Regions from separate parts of the Homo sapiens genome. Here all the other regions are linked to region 1. The links come from fine-mapping of genetic effects on gene expression. A gene starts in region 1. Each other region holds a variant in brackets. All regions are shown on one strand. Distances are between the middles of the regions.

Region 1 (5,038 bases):
ATCTCTTTGCTTTAAATGACTGGCTTTTTTTTTTTTAATGCCCTTCCTGCCTCTTTTGGTGTCAAAGGCTGCTTTCTTTCAAGAAATGAGGTGTTGGAAGATGACAGTTTGTTATCATTCATTTAATTAGTTTTTAGTTTTAAAATCTCCGTAATTGGCAAAATCCAGGGTGGCAGCCATATGAAGCCTGCAGATGTATGGAAAGTCTGCAGGTCCATAGCAACCCACGGCCTACAGTGGAGCCTGACCCTGCAGGAAGGGAAGCTTCCCACCCTGAGCAGAGGAGAAAGGGAAACACTGAGCCCAGGGTTTGTCTGGCCAAGGGGTGGGACTCCTGGTGTTTGCAGCCCAGCAGCCTCAGGATAGGAGGCTGACGAGGCTTCGGCTGAGAGGATAGTGGACATCTGTAGGCACCACAGGTCCCTCTCTAAGGAGCAGACACTGCACACCCATCATGACTCTGAGAGAACTCAGTGCAGACAAGGGTTCAGAGAGAAGAGGTAGAGGAAGGAATACGAGAACTGGCCTGGATCCCAGCAGTTTTGACCCCAGCCAGCATGGTGGACAAAGGCCTCAGGCTCTCTGCCCTCTGTCTACCTCCTGAAAAGCCAGGGCTGTTGCACCAGAGCTTCTCCAAGGCCTCTCCAGCTCTGACTCTGGCTCAGGCTAATCCTAGACGTTAAGATGCTCACGGCTCGGAGTCAGAGAGACCCACGCCCCATGTCTGTAACCTGAGCAACCACAAAGCAAGCCCTGGTCAAAGGGCTGTGTTGAAGGTTAATGAGATGGGGCCCTGGAAGCCCTCGGCTCAGCCAACACCAAACAGCCAGGACAAGATCCCACTGGGCCAGGAGAGAAATCCAAGTAACCCACATGGGCCAGGTGGAGTCAGACTGGGCTTGTGAGAGGCCTAAGAGAATCTTCCTGCTCCTTCTAAGGCCCCGGCAGCAGCAGGTCCCCACTGGGGAAGTCCAGGCAGCCTGGGCCTGCGTTCCTTCCCCTGAGGCATGAGAGAGGGGACACAGGAAACCAGTCTTTGGAGGTGGGGCTGCAGACTGTCAGCACAGGCCAGCGACCAGCTGCGAGCCTGGCTTGGTTTCCAGTGCCCCAGCTGACCCTGTAAACACTGTGGCTCCCCTTGCTTCTTTCTCCAGCCCTGCAAGGCTACATGCCTGCCCCGCTGGACTGGGAGCAGGAGAGGTTGGGCCACAGGCTGCTGGTCTCAGCTGCAGCCTCTGGGGGCAGATGGCCGTGGCTTTGACTGTTGTCACTCACTTAACCTGCCAGGGCCTCAGATTTCTCATCTGCAAAGTGGGGCTTTTAACAGGACCTTCACTTTAGGTTGTGGTGAGGATGAAATGGGCTAACAAATGCTTAGCACGACAGGTCCCAGCTGTGAGTCAGTATTCAAAACAGGTCTGGGTTCATCACCCAATTCCCCTCCTGCCTGGAGAAGCACAAGGCCCTGGCTGCTCGGGGGAACATTTCTGCCAGCCCAGGGATGCTACTTGAGATGTTCAGGTGGACACACATTTCCCTGACTACACTCCGGCACTGCCTGAGGCCCCGGCAAAATGATTAGACCAAGAGCTGCAGGGCAAGGCCCCCCTATGATTAGACCGAGAGCTGCAGGGCAAGGGCCTCCTTCAGACGCTGGACAGGAAGGGGGTTTTAGAAAGGAACCTTCAGCAAGTGGCTGGTTCCTCCATTGTTAGCACAGCTGGTACATTCAGTAACATCCCCAACCGGGCAGTGGGAGGAGTTGATGGTGACAGAGACCCAAATTGAGGGGGTGGGGGGTGGGCAGCGGTCACAGCCAAGTGCTCAGGAGAGAGAAGAGGCTGCTCGCTGGTGGTAATGGTGACTTCCTCTGCTCTCAGGCCCCTGAAAGCAGCTTCTGACTGAATGGAAAGTCCTTTCTTGATTAAACTCACCCCATATTCTTGGCTCGCCAAACAACAGCTTCCTCCAGGGGCCCGAAGCCTGGGTGCTCCAGGAAGGGTCCCCCTTGCCACCTTTGCTCTTCTCAGGGTTTCTGAGCTGGGCATCTTTGAGCTGATCTCTAACACACCCACCTCCACAGAGCCCTGAGCTTCCTCCTGGCTCCAAAAGCCCAAACTCCCTTCTCTCGGTCCCCAGACTCCAAGGAAGCCACAAGGTCCATACAGCTCATGGGAAGCTGGGGTGTAACATCAGGCCTCAGAGTGGTTCTGACAGCTCCAAGGCTGCAAAACCTGCCATGAGACCAGCTCTCTGAACTCCAAGGACAAGGTCCATGACAGGGTGGCGGGGAAGTGTGCATGTCAGATCACTCTGTCCTGTGACATAAGAACAACCCATCTCAAAGCTGGGCCCCCTCTAAGCCCCTCTGTCATATCTGTGCCCGGGGAGGGAGCAGGTTGTACTCACAGCACGCAGAGCGCGTATGCCCGGGAGATGGACTCGCTGGCACGCACGAGGAAGCTCCCGTCCTTGCCTGTCCTGGAAAGCAGCTCCTCCGCCTTGGAGCGGGTGATGTTGCCATGGTTCCAGCAGGGGACCATGGTGGGCGTGGGCCTCCTCGGCCGGGCCGGCAGGCACCCCCAGGACCCACACACCACCGAGGGGAGCGGAGGCCCCTCCACTGCAACCTGCCGCCCGTTGCCTCTTGGTGGCCTCGGCTGCTGCCACCAGCTTAACTGACTGACTTCCTGTTTCAGGCGCTCAGTGAGGGAAAGGAAACTGAGCTGCGGAGAACTTCCTCATTACAGAAACCAAGCAAGAGAGAGAGAGAGAAAGAGAGAGAGGGGGGGGCCCTGGCCGTCCACCGTCCCCTACACCCTGCCACGGCTGCCGCGGCTCTCTTGCCAGCCCTCTCCTTCCTGGCAACTGGTCGCAGCGTACAATTGAAGTGTCCAGTGGCAGCTGAAGTCCCCCTGGGTGGAATGACCGGCTCTGGAGACGTCAGGAGAGTTGTGGCCACTTCTGAAGAAGCATGGCCTAGCAGGCATGGGTGGGCCAGAGAAGTGGTTCTTCTGCGGCCGTGCTGACACCCACGTGGGATGCCATGCCCTAGACAGGCCCCCGAGCCTTCTGCTCTCCCTCAGGGCTTTTCAGCACCCACCCTGAACCTCCAAAACACCCAAGGGGGCACAGCTTCTCAACTGGGACTACGGCCTGCCCAGGACAGAGCAAACTTGAGGGGGAGGGGACAGTCGAGCCCCACCCCTCCCCTTTAGAGACTCCCAGCGGCCTGGGTGCTGGGAGACCTTGGCTGCCACCAGCCGAGGGCGCCAAGGTCCAAGTGATGGCTCTGTGACCCCATTACCCTCATTCCCAGGGGCGGGTGGGTGCTGCACGGGCAGCACAGCTCTGATCCCTGCAGTCCAGCTTGGAGACACACAAAGGGAGCTTGGAGGGGATGTGGGCCGTTTACAGCGGGAACATAGGCTGGGTTTTTCCCTGGGCTTCTCCAGGATGCTGGGGAAACAAGCTCGGAGAGGAGAACCCCAAAGCCCCACAGGGCAGGCTGGCCGCCTGGCCAAGGACAACACTGGGTGCTGAGTCCTGCGTCTCAGCAGTCGGGGTGGCCGGTCGGACTGCACCGCCTCCAAGACTGGGCATGGCCACATATGCCCACCACTCAAAGAGGAGCTGCCTCTCCAGGGACCGCCATCCAGGACCAGTCATTTCTGAGGGCTCTGCGGTGGACACCCATCCCTCAGCCCCCAGACCTGGGCACCTTCCGTCCTTGGGTCCGGCCCACCAAGGCCGAAGGGGCACGTGTTGACCCGCTGCACAAAGAGTGCCCCCACCATCCCACATCCAGGCCTTGGCCTCCAGGACATGACAACAGACTCCCTCCAGGAAGGGGCACCAGCCAGGCAGCGCCACCACATTCAAGCTGTGGGAACCTGGTCAAGTTTCTTCTCTCTCTCGGCCTTGGTTTCTTCTTGTCTAACTTGAAGGACGTAGCTCGTAAAAGAGCTCACATGTGCCCAGGGGCTCAACATGTGTCACACTGATGGTTGTCCCAGAACAGGGCCCCCAGCACCTCCCCGCTGAGCAACACACATGGCAGGCGAGTCTGTAGGGCAGACAAAGCACTCCCAGTCAAGGACCTCTGGCCAGGCTGGGAGCCAGGCGTGGGGATAGAGTGGTGATGGGAACTGGCCTCCATGCTCCGGCCCTTCCGCAGCACGCCACCTCTGCAGCAGCCCAGTGTGGAGGCCTCTCATTCCCCACCCACGCCTCCACTCAGCACCTGTCCACCCCCTCCTTATGGGGTCATCTCCTATGCTCCCATTGTGTACCTTCACACCCTTCTCACTTCCCTGCTGGCCTCCACCAACATCCATGAAGTCCTGGACCACGCCACCAGGAGGATCCATTTGCAATACTGGTCCCTTTACACCTCCACCCACTCATCTCTAGAGACCCCTACCATGCCAAGACTGCCCTACTTAGAGAGCTTCCCCCAAACCCCCAGCCCCCCACCTCTCACACCTCTATTCCCACGGTCCTTGCCATTCCACAGAGTGAGATCCCCTGGCACACACGCCACACGGGCACTCTTCCCTCATTTTTAAGGCCCATCCCAACTTTGCTTCCTTTTCCACCCAATTGCCTGATCTATCCAGCATGGTCAGCTGGCTTGTCCCCCACCCTTCTGCCCTCCACATTCAGGAAATCCCAGTATCTAGATCAGAGCTGCCCTTTTGGTGGGTGGATTTTTTTTTTTTGTAGGTCTCCAGTCAATATAAATAATTTTAACGTATTACAAAATTCACAAACTCATGTGAGGGATAGTGATTTATCAATGAAGACTTCAAATAATGGCTAGAGAGTGGCCAGGCACAGTGGCTAACACCTGTAATCCCAGCACTTTGGGAGGCTGAGGGGAGTGGATCACCTGAGGTCAGGAGTTTGAGACCAGCCTGGCCAACATGGTGAAACCCTGTCTCTACTAAAAAAAAAAAAAAAAAAAATCAGGTGGGTGTGGTACGTGCCTATAATCGCAGCTACAGCTACTTTGGAGGCTGAGCAGGATAATCACTTG
Region 2 (5,038 bases), 100 kb before region 1:
TTTTTTTTTTTGAGATAGAGTCTCGCTCTGTCACCCAGGCTGGAGTGCAGTGGCATGATCTCAGCTCACTGCAACCTCCACCTCTCGGGTTCAAGCGATTCTCCTGCCTCAGCCTCCCAAGCAGCTGGGATTACAGGTGCGCACCACCACATCCAACTAATTTTTGTATTTTTAGTGGGATGGGATTTCACCATGTTGGCCAGGCTGGTCTCGAACTCCTGACTTCAAGTGATCCACCGGCCTCGGCCTTCCAAAGTGCTGGGATTACAGGCGTGAGCCTACCACACCGACCAGCATTTGCTGTTTCTGTCCTGTGCTAATTATGGCTGGGAGCCATTTCAGGGGAGTGGAGGAGGGAGGCTGGCCCCAGGGCAGAGAGGAGGGGAAGGAGGGGAAGGAGGGGAAGGTGTGTGTGAGCTGCACAGCCCAGAAGCTGCCCTGCAATGGTCATAAAGCTGGGACTCTGGCCAGGCCTTTCTCCTCACCCCTCAGATGCCAGTCGCACTGCCCTTCTCAGGGAGGCCCCTGACCTCTGCTCTCTGCCCACGCCACACACTCCTTCGCCAGTGCACTCCCTCCCAGGAACTGGCTTCTTTTCCTCCCGTCTGCTCATGCAATGTGTGTCAGGTCCACATGAGCAGAGCTCCTGCCTGCTCAGAAGCTGACCCAGTGCCCAGCCCTGAGGCCAGGATGACCAGGAACTGGTCTGGCTGAGGGGGTGGTTTTATGTGGCCCTAGGAGGTCCGAGCATATTCTGCACAGCGGGGCAGGGGCTGGTGGGAGGGACTGGAAGCCCAGGGAGCGATGGAATCCACACCCGGGGCGGTTGCTGGGCAGCAGGAGGGCGTGGGCGCAGCCAGGATAGCCACGCCAGCCCCACCCTTCTACTGTGGCAGGAAGGAAGGGGGACGAGTGGGGGTGGACGCGGGCAGTTTGCGGTTTGTCAGCAGAAAAGTTGAGAGAGCTTTGCACGTTCGATTGCAGCAATTCTTCTATTTCCTGTTATCTCTGGGACTCTGTCCTGTTCCTGACTCCACTGACTCCAACCACCAAAAACCACTGGCCTCGCCCCTGATGCCAGCCCTGGAGCCCTGTGTGTATACCACCCCACGTGCACACACGGGCACACACACACACACACACAAACACACAGAGAGGCTCTAGCACTTATGCACATGCACTCGGACACCCACCCTCACATACCTAGACTCTCATAAACACACACTCACAAACACAGACACATGGACTCACAGATACTCACACACTCATAGATATGGGGTGGTACACTCATACATGGACTCACATACATAGACTCACATAAACACACTCACAAACACATGCATGGACTCTCACACACTCATAGATACGGGGTGGTACACTCACACACAGATGCACATAAACACACACTCACAAACACACATGCATGGACACACACACATAGACACTCACACACTCATAGATATGGAGTGGTACACACACACGGACTCACATACATAGACTCACATAAATACACTCACAAACACATGCATGGACACACACACACTCATAGATACGGGGTGGTACACTCACACACGGACTCACATATGTAGACTCACATAAACACACACAAACACACATGCATGGACTCACACATACAGACACTCACACACATAGATATGGGTGGTACACTCATACACGGACTCACATACATAGACTCACATAGACACACTCAAACACATGCATAGATTCACACACATATAGACACACACTCATAGATATGGGGTGGTACGCTCACACATTGACTCACATAAACATGCTCACAAACACACATCCATAAACTCTCACACACCTACACAGGCTCACACACTCACATGCACGCTGTCACTCACACAAACTCACATACACAGACCTACTCACACACACATCCTACACAAACACACAGGCTTGCACTCCTACACTTATGAAGACTTCTTGCCCTTGTTACTGCTCTCTGAAGCCAGCAACTCTCCACTGACACCAGCGTTTCCAGATCCAACCTGGTGCACAGGGACCGAGGGCAGGGGCCAGCCACCTCCCGCCTGTGCTTGTAAGGAAGGTCTCACTGGTAACACAGTCACTCCCATTCGCTTTCTGGGTTGCCTATGGCTGCTTTCCCACCAGAAAGGCAGAGAGGAATAGTGTTGAGTGGCCTGCAAAGCCTGAAATATTTACTGTCAGGCCCTTCCCTTTCCTGCAAAAGTTGGCCAATGCCTCTTCTAGGTTCTTGCTTCTTAAAATGGGTCCCACGGGCCGACCAGCAGCGCTCAAGTCGCCTGGGAACCTGTCAGAAACTTGGAACCCTGAGCTCCACCCAAGATCTACTGGGTCGGAACCTGCATTTTAGCTAGATCCCTGGGACTGCTGGTGTAGACCCTGAGT[G/A]AGTTTCAGCCAGGGAGACCAATCACCCCTATTTGCTGAGGACTGAGCCAGGATCTGAGGATGTGAGGCTCTCTGTTTTTAACCCGGGGAACTACTGGTGGGATCAGGATGATGTGGTCGCGAGAGTTGAGGCAGAGGGTGTGGGAGGAACACAGGGTCCCCGCCCTGCTCACCCAGTGTGTTTGCAATGCCTGTCTTCACGTTGTCAGTACAGATGTGGCTGATCCGGTTCTCGTGCTCAGGCTTGGCCAGCACCACGATGCGGATGTTCCAGAGCGTGTGGATGGCGACCTGGTGGGAGGACAACGTTGCAATACTCGGCCCAAGTGTAGGGTGTGAACCAGGGCACAGTGATTCACACCCAGCCCCAGCCGCAGCCCCTGGGTATGGGGTATCCTGTCTGTAATCCCAACCCTTCGGGGGACTCCCAGCGATGCTTGATAGGCGAGACAAAACATCCTAAAGATGAGAACCGGGGCTGACCAAGGGTGGGAAGATAGAGGACTCAGTGGTTTTCAGCAATACCCCACAGATCCCATTTATTTCTGAATACAGACGCATCTCTCAGTGGGGGCCTCCAGACATCCTTGAAAACTGAGAGCTGATAGGCTGAGCCCACCCTTGCCTCTGAGACAGCCCAGCCGAGCAAAGATTCTATCCCGGAAGCCCACCCAGCGTGCAGCCAGCTGCTCACTGTTTTAAAAGTCACACTGGTGATTTCTTGCAGGGAGTGTTTGAGGATCTCCAGCCACTCCTTCTCACTCAGGGGGTCCTCTTGGGTGCCGATCACGTAAATGTCATGGGGGATGTAGTCCGCAGAGTCGTCCCGCGTCTTTCCCTGCCCCTTGGAGAGAAACCAGGACGTGATCTTCTTGGGAGGGGGGGCGTTACCTTCAACAGCAAAACCCAACACCAAGTGAGTCAAAGGCACATCGAGTCAAAGCATTAGGAGAATTCAAAACAGAGGGCGGGAGTGTGAGGGAGGTCACGTCATTACACAAGACCATCCAGGCAGCCCAAAGAAATGCCTGCAATGGAGGCCTGGGCGCCAACCTCACCCAGGATGTCGGTTAGGGCTAGAGCTCAGTTAAGCCTCTTTTTAAACGTAATGTCAAGTTTCAAGGTATAGAAACACCAGAAGATTCCCTGATGTCAGACACTGTCCTGCACTTTGAGGCTACGATAATTGAGACACAGTCCTGTCCCTCAAGGAACTCACATCCTATTCTCAAGACAGCCAAGGGAACTGACAAGTTTTAGATGGCGGGTTCTAACCCATTGTTGGGAGACAACAAAGTCTCCCTTGCAAGACAGATCCCAGCCCAGAGCGGAGGGATGCCTGGGTGTGAGCCAGAGAAACGGGAGAGTGTGGAAACTCCTCCGCATTCCCATTTCAAAACTGAGTTGAAGAAGCTCAATCAAGAAATTTTGAACGGTTCTCCCTACAATGCCCTTGAAGGATGAGCAAACTTTGTTCCTCAAAGAGATGAGCTTCTTGCCTTACAAGTGCAAAGAAGCCAAGCATTGGAGTAAATGGACTGTGGCTAAATTCTGCTCCCCCAAGAGGCTCAAAGTGGGTGCCCGAACCCCCGGGCTGGTGGGTCCCCGGCCCTCCTGCGGCATGGCCTCAGCTGGCTCCTTCCATACTCTTCTGTGGGAAGGGCACCCCTGCCCTTGTGTCATGGACATCCCTGACCATGTCCAGAGGGAGGAGATCAGGCAGACTATTGTCTCTTATTAGAAACACTGAAAGGGACCGAAGGGGACAAGTGACCCCCTGGGGCACTGGCCCGGGCTCTACTCCACGGCTGCTGTGGCCCTGGGACACGAGTGACAAGCTGTCACTTCACTTCCAGGAGGCCCCTGCCAGCCACTGCTCACCCTCTTCCTCCCAGACTCCTCTCAGGACAAGGGTAGGGGACACACGACACCCAGTGAAATTCCAATTTCAGATAAACTGGTAGTTTTTAGAATAAGTTTATCTGGATGTCTTCTATCTAATTTATTTCTACCTGAACACTTACACTAAAAAATTATTTAGTATTATTTATATTTAGTAGAGTGCATGTGTTTAGTAAATACACAATATATATGTTTAATACAAAATATATTTAGCATATATTTAGTATATTATTAGCTGTATGCTTAAACTAATATTACTTAGTATAATTCATATTTAATATAATAATTACACTTATTTAGCATATGTATATATACTATATATTCAGCATAATGTCTATGAGCATATATATTTAGTATTTATTTGTTTGTAGCTAAACATATACTAAAAAAAATTGTTTCTATGAAGTTAAAATTTAACTGGGCATCCTTTGTCTACGTACCTATCTCTCTGTCTCTCTCTGTCTCTCTCCTGATAAATCTGGCAACCCTACTCAGGGTGGACTTCTTTCTCTCAGGCCTGGGGCCCCTTGGTGAGCTGCCTAGGGCTGGCAGGGTTCCCATGAGCCCCTTCACCTAGATATTCAGACTCTTTCCCTAAAACTTTCCAATTTAGACATACAGAGTAACCCACGCCAGCTGCTCTTGGGGTACGATAGTCCCAAAGCTCGTTTTTCTTACCCATCATCTCAGGAAAAGGGTGGAATTCCTCAGGAAGGAGGTTGTGCGGGTGGGCTGGGGC
Region 3 (5,038 bases), 150 kb before region 1:
GAGATGGAAAAGGCAAGGATGAAAATTCTTGCATTCCACAGCGTTTCCTGTTCTGAGCACCAGGTGGGCCTCAGCTGTCCGACCACGTGCAATCAAAGCCAGGTCCTCACAGCAGCCCTGGGTTTGACTGTGGTGGGGGCACTGCATTTGCTTGAGTGACTGGAACCCAGAGCAGGTGACGGGGAGCATGATGTATGCCCCAAACAGTTGCTCTCCTACCCGTATCTCCTGGGAACCCACAGAAATGCTGGGGAGTGCCTAGACATCCATCCTAAGTGGGCATGGGGCCTTGGGCTTGACATTCTCCCTGTGGGTGAGCAGATGATGGCACTTGTGTAGCAGGCCAGCCCACCCCAGCAGCCAGTGGGTTCCCCAGGGACCATGGGCATCCATGCCTGGGTCCTCAGCTCTGGTGATGGGGGCTGGGAGACTAAAGAATGTCTGGGTGTCTCCAGCTCTCTCTCCACCGTGGCCCTTGGTCTGTTGAATCAGAGGCTGGGGCCTGGGACTTAGGTCAGGTTCTACACGGACACCAGGCAGTGAGCCTGCAGGGCGGGGACACCTGAGTGGGGGTAGGGAGCCATGGTCCCAGCAGGCACTCAGTCCTGCCCCTGCTGGGCTCCAGGTGCCACTGAGGCTTGGGAGTGAATGGTTTGCTTGGAGGCTGCCAAAGACACGGCTCCAGGCCCTGCCTGGAGCCCAGGCCTGGTGTCTGTGAGCAGAAGCAGAGGCCAGGCAGCCCAAGGTGGGGCAGAGGCGCCGTGGAAGTGGCCCGCACTGTGCCTCTGGGCGGGGGTCTACTCCCTGACCTGGGAACCCATGACCTGGGGAGTGTTGACGTGTTTTTTTTGTCACTGCAGCTTAAGTGGTGAAAACTTATAAAAGCTGGGAGGAACTTGTGGGCTGCAGGACAGCAGGTTTGGAGGGGATGCTCGTGGCCTCTGGGTGGCCGCAGGGTGCTTGGAGTGCCAGGAAGATGTGTGGGTGGAAGGAAGGAAGGGGTGCGGTTTACTCCTGTTCCTAGTCCAGGACCAGCTTCAAACTGGCTCTATGGTGTCCCATCTGGTCAGGGCAACACCATCCATCACCACCATGAACCCTTAACTGCCTCAGTTGTGCCCTGTGCAGGCCCTGCCATCTAGAAGGATATCTATGGCTCCGAATGTCAGGAAAAACGCCACACACACAGCTGAGTGAGAAAGGCACAATTTATTGGTTACGCAGACTTCCATCATGGGAATGTGGGGTGCATTCCCTTCTGCATTCACACACACCACTGGATTTAGCTCCCTACATTAATTCTGCTATGTTGAAAAAGCAACATAAGGAAAGACATCACCCATCTATTCTCCTAATAACCAAGGAAGCAGAGCTGAAAGCCACAGAGATAGGAAGAAAAGGCTGCACTATTTCAAGAGCCTGGAACCAAGAGGCCCACCCTCCCTGGCAGCCAGGCTGGAGAGCACGGCTTTCGGGAGCAACAGCAAAGACTCTTCTACCAGCACGATGGAATACATGTTGGGGGGCTTGGCTTAACTGTGGCTGGTGATGGCTGCCCACCTCGAGGAGGGCACAGGGAACCTGGCACAGGCCTTGGCATCTCTAGCCCAAGCTGAGGCCAGATCTCTCCACTGGAGAATAGGAGCTGATTTCCTGCTCCTTCCAACCAAAGAACTGAGAAGCCAGGTAGATCCCTGCTCTCAGCCTAGCCATGCCGGAACCCGCGGGACTTTAGCTAAAGCAGCTTGTGTCACTGAAGCTGGACAGAACAGGCTTCTTGTACCCTAAACAAGCTACCCAGACTCTTCAGCTCCTTAAGGCCGAGCCCTTGTCTCACTCCAGGAGGGCACTGGGCTTCTTAATGCTTTCACCCCTCCGAACACACACCGTTTTAAACTGGTGGGTTTGGGCACGTGGTTTTAGGTGGCTAGAGCCTCAGCTCTCGAGGTCATCCTGATATGACGAATGTTCGTAAAGCACTTAGCACAGCACTTGGCACA[T/C]CATGAGTGTTCGATCCATGTGGCCATTATTATTATTAATATTATTATTATCTATATCTCCACCCTCAAATCGGCGCTGCAGTTCCTTTCTTCAGAATGGCGCCCTCAACGAGGCACTGGGGTCCCAAGTACCAAGAGCGAGCTGGGGACCCAGACTGTTTGTTGCCCGTCTGGTGTGCGTTTTTCTTCCAGCCTCAGCACTTGGTGCTAAGTCTCACAGGCAGTGAACTCTGTGGGCCACACAGAAGCTAGGCCCTTTCCTGAAAACACAAAGCCTTGCATAGGAAGCTGGGCAGGAGGAGCCAGCAGGAGGTCCCGGGAGAGGGTCCAGTGGCTTCACGCCGTTCCTCTGGGCTCCCGACTCAGTGGCAGCTCACTGAGGGCTTCACTGTGGGACAAGAACAGAAGGGCTGTCAGGGCTCATTCTCACCAGGCCATGTTGAACTAAGTGGCCCAGGTCCCTGCATGCTGTGGGCTAGGCCAGGCTTCCTTTAACGTGTAGCTGAGAAGAGCCAGCACTCACTGCTCTAAGTACTTTACCTGCTTATTTAAAAAAATTGTTTTTTAGAAATGGGGTCTTACTCTGTTGCCTAGTCTGGAGTGCAGTGGTGCAATCATAGCTCACTGCAGCCTTGAATTCTTGGGTTCCAGCTAGCCTCATGCCTCAGCCTCCCCAGTAGCTGGGACTACAGGTGCATGGCACCACACCCAGGTACGTACCATATATATATATAAAATATATACACATATGTAATATGTATAGTATATATATATGAAATGATATGTAATGGATATCAATGTAAATACATAAATATAAATATATAATTTCTATATAGATGATAATACATGGTAATAATACATAATAGCCTACAATGCAATTCTCCTTCTAAGTCTATGAGGTAGGTACTATTAACAGCCCCTTTTTACAGATGGGTAAACTGAGGCTCAAGGCACAGAGCCAGGAGGTGGGAGGGCTGGGATTCAAATCCAACATAGCCTGACTGTTCTCTTTTTTGAGATGGAGTCTCACTCTGTCGCCCAGGCTGGAGTGCAGTGTTGCGATCTCGGTTCACTGCAACCTCCGCCTCCTGGGTTCAAGCAATTCTCCTGTCTCAGCCTCCCGAGTAGTTGGGATTACAGGTGCACACCACAATGCCCAGCTAATTTTTGTATTTTTAATAGAGACAGGGTTTCACCATATTGGTTAGGCTGGTCTTGAACTCCTGACCTCAGGTGATCCATCCACCTCGGCCTCCCAAAATGCTGGGATTACAGTCATGAGCCACCACGCCCGGCCTGGAGTCTGTTCTTAATCACTGTTAGTTTTGCTCAAAAAATTTTTTATTTTACATGAAGGAGAGGGAAAGTGTGCTGAATTCTCCAAAATATTGGGAAATTTTCAAGTATGAATGCGACTTAATAATAACAATGAGGCTGGGTGCAGTGGCTCATGCCTGTAATCCCAGAACTTTGGGAGGCCCAGGCAGGCAGATCACCTGAGGTCAGGAGTTCGAGACCAGCCTGGCCAACATGGTGAAATCCCATCTCTACTAAAAATACAAAAATTAGCCAGGCATGGTGGCAGGTGCCTGTAATCCCAGCCACTCGGGAGGCTGAGACAGGAGAATCGCTTGAACCCAGGAGGCGCAGGTTGCAGTGAGCCGAGATCACACCACTGGACTCTAGCCTGGGCAACAAAGAGTGAAACTCCGTTGTTGTTGTTTTTTAATTTTTTTTTTTTTTTTTTTTTGAGACGGAGTCTTGCTTTGTCACCAGGCTGGAGTGCAGTGGCGCAATCTCGGCTCACCACAACCTCTGCCTCCCAGGTTCAAGCGATTCCCCTGCCTCAGCCTCCCAAGCAGCTGGGACTACAGGCGTGCGCCACCATGCCCGGGTAATTTTTTGTATTTTAGTAGAGACGGGGTTTCACCATGTTGGCCAGGATGGTCTCGATCTCCTGACCTCGTGATCCACTGTGCCTGGCGAAACTCAGTTGCAAAACAAATTTATAATAACAATGAGATATAAATGATTTAGGCTCCTTTTCTTTATGGAATCTTCTTCCTCTGGGACTGACACTAGACTAAGTTTATCCACAGCCCCGCCTTTCTTCCTTTTAACAACTGCTGCAGAGGCAATGCAGGGTCAGGGATGTGTGGGACAGGCAGACCTGGGTTCAAATCCTGACTCTCCCTTCTCATGGAGCAGTTCCCAGGACCATCACTCGCATGTGTGCACATGCATGCGTTCACACATGCACGCACATATGCATGCGTGCACACACACATGCACACACATATGCATAGGTACACACATACGCACTCACGCATGCACACACACACAAATGCACACGAACCCACGTGTGGCGCAGCGCACCTGCATGGCAGTCCTGCCTAGAGGCCCTGGTGGCCCCTCCTCCGGCCGGTGCTTGCCGTGATGCGGGAGCTCGGTGTTGTCGCGGTAGTCGCGGCCCTTGGAGTGCTGGAGGTGCAGCACCGCCGGGCTCTTGACTGGCAGCGGCGGCCGCGGCGTCGGGGTGGGCGGGGTCTGCTGGTTGATTTCCGATCTGGAAGGCTTGATGGGCCTCTTGGCCGGCACCGGGGCCTGGGAGCTGACCGGGGTCTTGGGCTTCCCTTGGCTCTTGTCCCCGCCGGCCGCCCTGCCCTCGGCAGAGGATGAGCACGTGAAGGAGCGCAGCCGGGGCGCGGGCACCTGCTTGCCGGGCCCCTCGCCGCGATCAGCCTCCTGGGCTTTGGTGAGCACGATGCTGGGCGACAAGATGCCGGGTTCCGGGCAGGGCGGGGGTTCCTTCCGCGGCATTTTGGGGGATTCCTGGTCCTTCCTGGGAGCAGGCTTAGGGAAGGAACTCAGGGACCCATACAGGGGGTTCTCAAACATCTCGGGCTTCGTCAGCGGCAGGTCCTCCTGAGGCAGCGTGTCCCCTGCGTTCTTCCCCAGGTCACTGGGCCTAGAGCCAGGGACAGAGCAGGGAAGACACATGTCCAGGGGAGAAGACATGGGAGCATGGCTGCTTAATG
Region 4 (5,038 bases), 120 kb before region 1:
AGATTTTTCTGGTCTAATCATTGTACTTATTTATTTACTTATTTTTGAGACAGAATCTTGTTCTGTTGCCCAGGCTGGAATGCAGTGGCGCGATCTCGGCTCACTGCAGCCTCCACCTCCCAGGCTCAAGCAATTCTCATGCCTCAGCCACCCGAGTAGCTGGGAGTACAGGTGCGTGTCACCATGCCCAGCTAATCTTTGTGCATTTTGTAGAGATGAGGTTTTGCCATGTTGGCCAGGCTGGTCTTGAACTCCTGACCTCAGGTGATCCACTCGCCTCGGCCTCCCAAGTGCTGGGATTACAGACGTGAGCCACCACGCCTGGCTCACTTTATTTTATTGATGAAGAGCCCCAAACACTGGGTGGGAAGGGGACTTAAGGCCACTCAGCTCATCGGTGGGAGAGACGGGACACCTTTTCCATCCCACGATGCCTCATAGAACCGGGAGAGAGTGGAGGACGCTAAGTGTAGAAAACTCTGTTAAGGAGCTTGGTGCTCGGGTGAGAATGGAGGCAGCAGAGCACTTTGGGAAGGGGCAAGAGAAAGAGGACAGTTCTAGAAAGACAGTTCTTTCAAGATAGCCCGTTGGAGATGCCTGGCAGGAAATGGGCACTCAAGGCTGGAGATGCATCTTTAGATGTGGAGTCTTAGGATTAGGTGGAAGCAGAAGACCTGAGCATGTCTGGGCTTTCACACGAAGGATGAGAAGAGACGAGGATGGAATTCCAGGGCACACCAACCATGAATGGGCGGGCAAAGGAAAAACCGCCAGCAAAGGAGACCAAGAAGGTGATAAAACAGACTTGGCATCCTTTTTAGAAAGCATTTACAAATCAGCAAGAAAAAGATAAACACTCCACCCTTCAACCAACCAAAGGATATGGACAGAAAATTCACCAAAAAATACAGATGGCTAATAAACATGAAAAGAAAAAAAGCTCACTTACTAAGGATCACCAGAGAAACACATGGAAACTATGAGACAGAACAGAGAAAGGGACAGGAGAGAAGGATGGGAGTGGGGGCACTGGTTGGTAGTGGAGAAGGAATAGATGGAGTCAAGGGTCCAGGGGCAAAGGCTAGGCAGGAAAGAAAGAGGAGGCTACCCCTTCTCTGAGACAGGAGGGAGGAAGATGCGAGGGCATCAGCCTAAAAACTGGACCTGAGGCCAAGCACGGTGGCTCATGCCTGTAATCCCAGCACTTTGGGAGGCCGAGGTGGGTGGATCACTTGAGGCCAGGAGTTCGAGATCAGCCTGGCCAACATGGCAAAACCCCGTCTCTACTAAAAATACAAAAATTAGCTGGGCATGGTGGTGGGCGCATGTAATCCCAGCACTTTGGGAGGCCGAGGTGGGTGGATCACTTGAGGCCAGGAGTTCGAGATCAGCCTGGCCAACATGGCAAAACCCCGTCTCTACTAAAAATACAAAAATTAGCTGGGCGTGGTGGTGGGCGCCTGTAATCCCAGCTGCTTGGGAGGCTGAGGCGGAGAATCACTTGAACCTGGGAGGCTGACGTTGCAGTGAGCCAGGATGGTGCCACTGCACTCCAGCCTGGATAACAAAGCAAGATTGTCTCAAAAAACAAAACAAAACAAAAAAAACAAAAAACTGGACACAGGCAAGAAGAAATCAGTGAGGTCCAGTGCTGTGTGAGGCAGGAGAGGATGGAGGTGGGGAGTCAGGCTGAGCACAGGGGTACAGGTTTGCTGTGGCAGTGGAGGAGGGGTGTTCCAGGGAGAATTTAATGGGTTGACGAGCAGGGTTTTTTTTTTTAAGCATTCTCAGAATATTTCAGATATGTACTGAACATAATAGCAATGGCACTACAGTGTGCCCTTAAGCCTAGGAGGTGGACTGTAAGATGGGTGACCCTCAAAGACCCAGTCCTCCTCCCAGTAACCACACTCTCTGTGGTCCCCTCCCACCATGAGTCTGGGCTTGGTCATGTGA[C/T]TTTCTTTGGCCAATGGGACCTTAGTAAACATGAGGCCAACAGAGCCTTAAGAAGAACTTCCCCACTGGTGACACTCGAATCTGGGAACCCTGAGACCAGGAAGCTAAGAAGCCAGCACTGGCCTGCTGGATGATGAGTACCACCCCTATGCCTGCTGACAGCCAGCCGACCCCAGATCTGATGGGCTCCTGCCTGAGTGTGCCCAGATGACACCAACTAGAGCAGAGGTGAGCAGTCCAAATTCAGCCTAGCGCAGAGACTCGCGAGCAAATAAATGTTTGCTTTAAGTCACTGAGTTTTAGGACAGTTTGTTATGCAGCAATAGACAGCTGATATGCCTGCTATGTTAATTGTCATGAGAAGACTGAGGCTCCCAGGTCACCCCTGTTTCCTGAGCTCTGGACATTCACTCCCTTTTCTTTTCCAACATTTTGCCTCCCCTCAACCCCAACTCATTAAACGCTTCTACTGAGCCCTCTGGCACTCAATGAAATATCATTAGCAAAATTCCCTGTATCTTTAATCTTCCTGTCACCTCCCAAACCCAGCCCTCCCCGGAAGACACTGCTGCCTCTCTGGTGAGGCTTGTTTTCCTCCCCAACCCTCATATTCCGGGCCCGGAGGTGGGGGCAAAGGGTGTCCTTCCTGCTCCTCATTGCCACTTCCGGACTGATCTCCCTCCTCTTTCTCTAAAGCCTCCACTGTCGAGCAGTTTTGAATGCCAAGTTTAGGTGCAAAACAGTAAGTGGTAATTCTACAAGCCTCCACTATCTCCTGACTCTCGGCAGAGGCTGGCTGAAGCAGACAGATGGTTGAGACAAGAATTGGCAGGATGCACGGAGCTGCAGGATGTGGGAAGGACAGTATTGACAGGGTTGACCCTGAGTGTGGCTGGGAAGGAGTGACAGGCCTGGAGAGTCCGACGGGTGGCAGGGAGGGAATGCACAAGTGAGGAGGCTGCAGGCAGAGGGTAGGACTCAGGCACTTTGAGCTTTGGAAGCTGGAACAATGCCCTGGCCGTGGCTATGAGGGCAGGTTGCCTTCCCACACATCTAAAGGTGTTGTGTGAAGTTCGTCTAGTGACGTCACTTCTGGGAGACAGAGCTCAGTCCTTCAGCAAGGAATGCAGGGTGCGTGTGTTAAACTATTTCAGGGTAGCTGCTCTGGGCTCTTCTGGGCAGTAGGAGGAGACAGGCACTGGAATGGAAGTCAGTTCAAAGTATAGGACCAGAGTTAAATAAGTGAGACCAAATTTGCCAGTCCCCAGAGACAGAGTGGGAGCCACAAAGGTGGCCAGCGGGCAGCATTCCCCCACCCCTCTCCTTGCTCCAAGGACTGGGGTGGCCATCCTTTAGAGGCCATTGTGTGGGAATTCGCAGTGTTTTAAAAATAATACCACTGGGCCTGGCGCAGTGACTCAGGCCTGTAATCCCAGCACCTGGGGAGGCTGAGGCGGGTGGATCACCTGAAGTCAGGAGTTCGAGACCAGCCTGACCAACATGGTGTAACCCCATCTCTACTAAAAATACAAAAAATTAGCCAGGCGTGGTGCTGCGTGCCTGATATCCCAGCTACTCGGGAGTCTGAGGCAGGAGAGTCACTTGAACCTGGCAGGCGGAGGTTGCAGGGAGCCGAGATTTTGCCACTGTACTCCAGCCTGGGCGACTGAGAGAGACTCCGTCTCAATAAATAAATAAATAAATAAATAAATAAATAAATAAATAATAAAATACCACAATTCTCAGTCAGTGAAGTGTTCAAAGCAACTCTGTTCTGTGGATTTTTAAGGTCTCACTTCGTAAGTAATGGGAACTAATCAGTAGCTTTTCAGAATAAGCATTCAGGCAATTAAGAACTCCTTCAGTGCACCTTCAACTTTGAGGGTCAAGAGTTAACAGTCATTTCTTTCTTTCATTTTTTTCAGAGATGGAGTCTACGTTGCCCAGGCTGGTTTTGAACTACTGGGCTCAAGCGATCCTCCCCCCTCAGCCTATTGAGCAGCTGAGACTATAGGTACGTGGCACAGTGCCTGGCTAACAGTTATTTCTTAATTGTTTTGATAACTTATTCCATAATTATTTATTTTAATATTACATGTTATGCCTTCTAAAAATCAATTTAACTCAATTTATGGTTAAACCTCCCCAAATATATATGTGTATATATGTGTACACACTTGCGACATGTATTAGTTTGAGCCATATGAATTTCCAATAACTATTTCTGACCTACAAAAACACTTTCATATGGTTCACACTTAATATGTTCTTTTCAAAAGAAATAAAACTGAATTTTTAAAAAAGTGCTCCGGGTCGGCCGCGGTGGCTCATGCCTGTAATCTCAGCACTTTGGGAGGCCGAGGTGGGCTGACCACCTGAGGTCAGGAGTTTGCAACCAGCCTGGCCAACATGGTGAAACCCCGTCTCTACTAAAAATACAAAAATTAGCCAGGCATGGTGGCAGGAGCCTGTAATCCCAGCTGCTTGGGGAGGCTGTGGCACGAGAATCGCTTGAACCCAGGAGGTAGAAGTTGTGGTGAGATGAGATCATGCCATTGTACTCCAGCCTGGGTGACAGAGTGAGACTCCGTCTCAAAAAGAAAAAGAAAAAAAGTGCTCTATAATTCAAATGTCTCCTAAAGCAGGGGATATGGATTAGGTGGCAGCACAAGACAGGCAGGGAAGCATCAACATTTCCAGGTCGCCTGATTAGGGTTACAGTGAATTCCTCCCTTTGACACATCAACAGACTGAAGCCCTTAGATTTTAGGGCAGTCACACCTCCCAGCTTGGTGCCATTCTCTGATCCTGTTCTGCTTTCCCCAGTGTTTGAACTCACCATAAGACTGACACACCACGTGCACCAGGGGATAAGACTTCCAGAGGACTCGGTCACACCAGGAAGGCAAGTTGTACTTCATCTGCAAATCAAAGTCATAGGCTTTAAAAAATGCCTCTTATTATTATTTTTTTAATCAGTAAAAGAACAGATTAACTGGTGGCCTCTGTAATCCTCAAATTCATCGGCTGTTGGCTTTTTATAGAATTTCCCTGTAGGTGGCTTTAAACTTTTTTCACATGG

Direction of the effects. Alleles are on the strand shown, and positions count from the first base shown. SD is a standard deviation of normalised expression in the study named. Not every link is listed here.
In carriers of allele A in region 2, the expression in subcutaneous fat of the gene that starts at base 2,680 in region 1 tends to be higher than with G alone (small effect, 0.16 SD a copy in GTEx).

The links. PIP is the estimated chance that this variant, and not a neighbour inherited with it, causes the effect. A credible set is the group of variants that fine-mapping cannot tell apart.
Region 2: its variant is the best candidate, but not a certain one, in a credible set for the expression of INPP5D in subcutaneous fat (GTEx, PIP 0.54).
Region 3: its variant is the best candidate, but not a certain one, in a credible set for the expression of INPP5D in whole blood (TOPMed, PIP 0.58).
Region 4: its variant is the best candidate, but not a certain one, in a credible set for the expression of INPP5D in whole blood (TOPMed, PIP 0.77).

The regions. Positions count from the first base shown.
Region 1 is chr2:233,057,984-233,063,021 of GRCh38, reverse strand. It overlaps INPP5D (inositol polyphosphate-5-phosphatase D), which reads right to left and starts at 2,680. Exons shown (of 27, transcript NM_001017915.3): 1 at 2,410-2,680. The coding sequence starts at 2,543. RefSeq lists enhancers at 1-355, 356-949, 2,036-2,125, 2,726-3,005 and silencers at 326-375, 2,446-2,525.
Region 2 is chr2:233,161,957-233,166,994 of GRCh38, reverse strand. It overlaps INPP5D (inositol polyphosphate-5-phosphatase D), which reads right to left. Exons shown (of 27, transcript NM_001017915.3): 12 at 3,092-3,288; 13 at 2,571-2,688. Among named protein-coding and RNA genes, the nearest start is that of ATG16L1, 87 kb to the left of the region's middle. RefSeq lists an enhancer at 2,723-3,336. The variant G/A (reference allele first, on the strand shown) is at 2,398.
Region 3 is chr2:233,204,056-233,209,093 of GRCh38, reverse strand. INPP5D (inositol polyphosphate-5-phosphatase D) reads right to left here. Exons shown (of 27, transcript NM_001017915.3): 26 at 4,377-4,968; 27 at 1,191-2,388. The coding sequence ends at 2,386. It also overlaps the pseudogene RN7SL32P. Among named protein-coding and RNA genes, the nearest start is that of ATG16L1, 45 kb to the left of the region's middle. The variant T/C (reference allele first, on the strand shown) is at 2,001.
Region 4 is chr2:233,177,104-233,182,141 of GRCh38, reverse strand. It overlaps INPP5D (inositol polyphosphate-5-phosphatase D), which reads right to left. Exons shown (of 27, transcript NM_001017915.3): 18 at 4,796-4,877. Among named protein-coding and RNA genes, the nearest start is that of ATG16L1, 72 kb to the left of the region's middle. The variant C/T (reference allele first, on the strand shown) is at 1,957.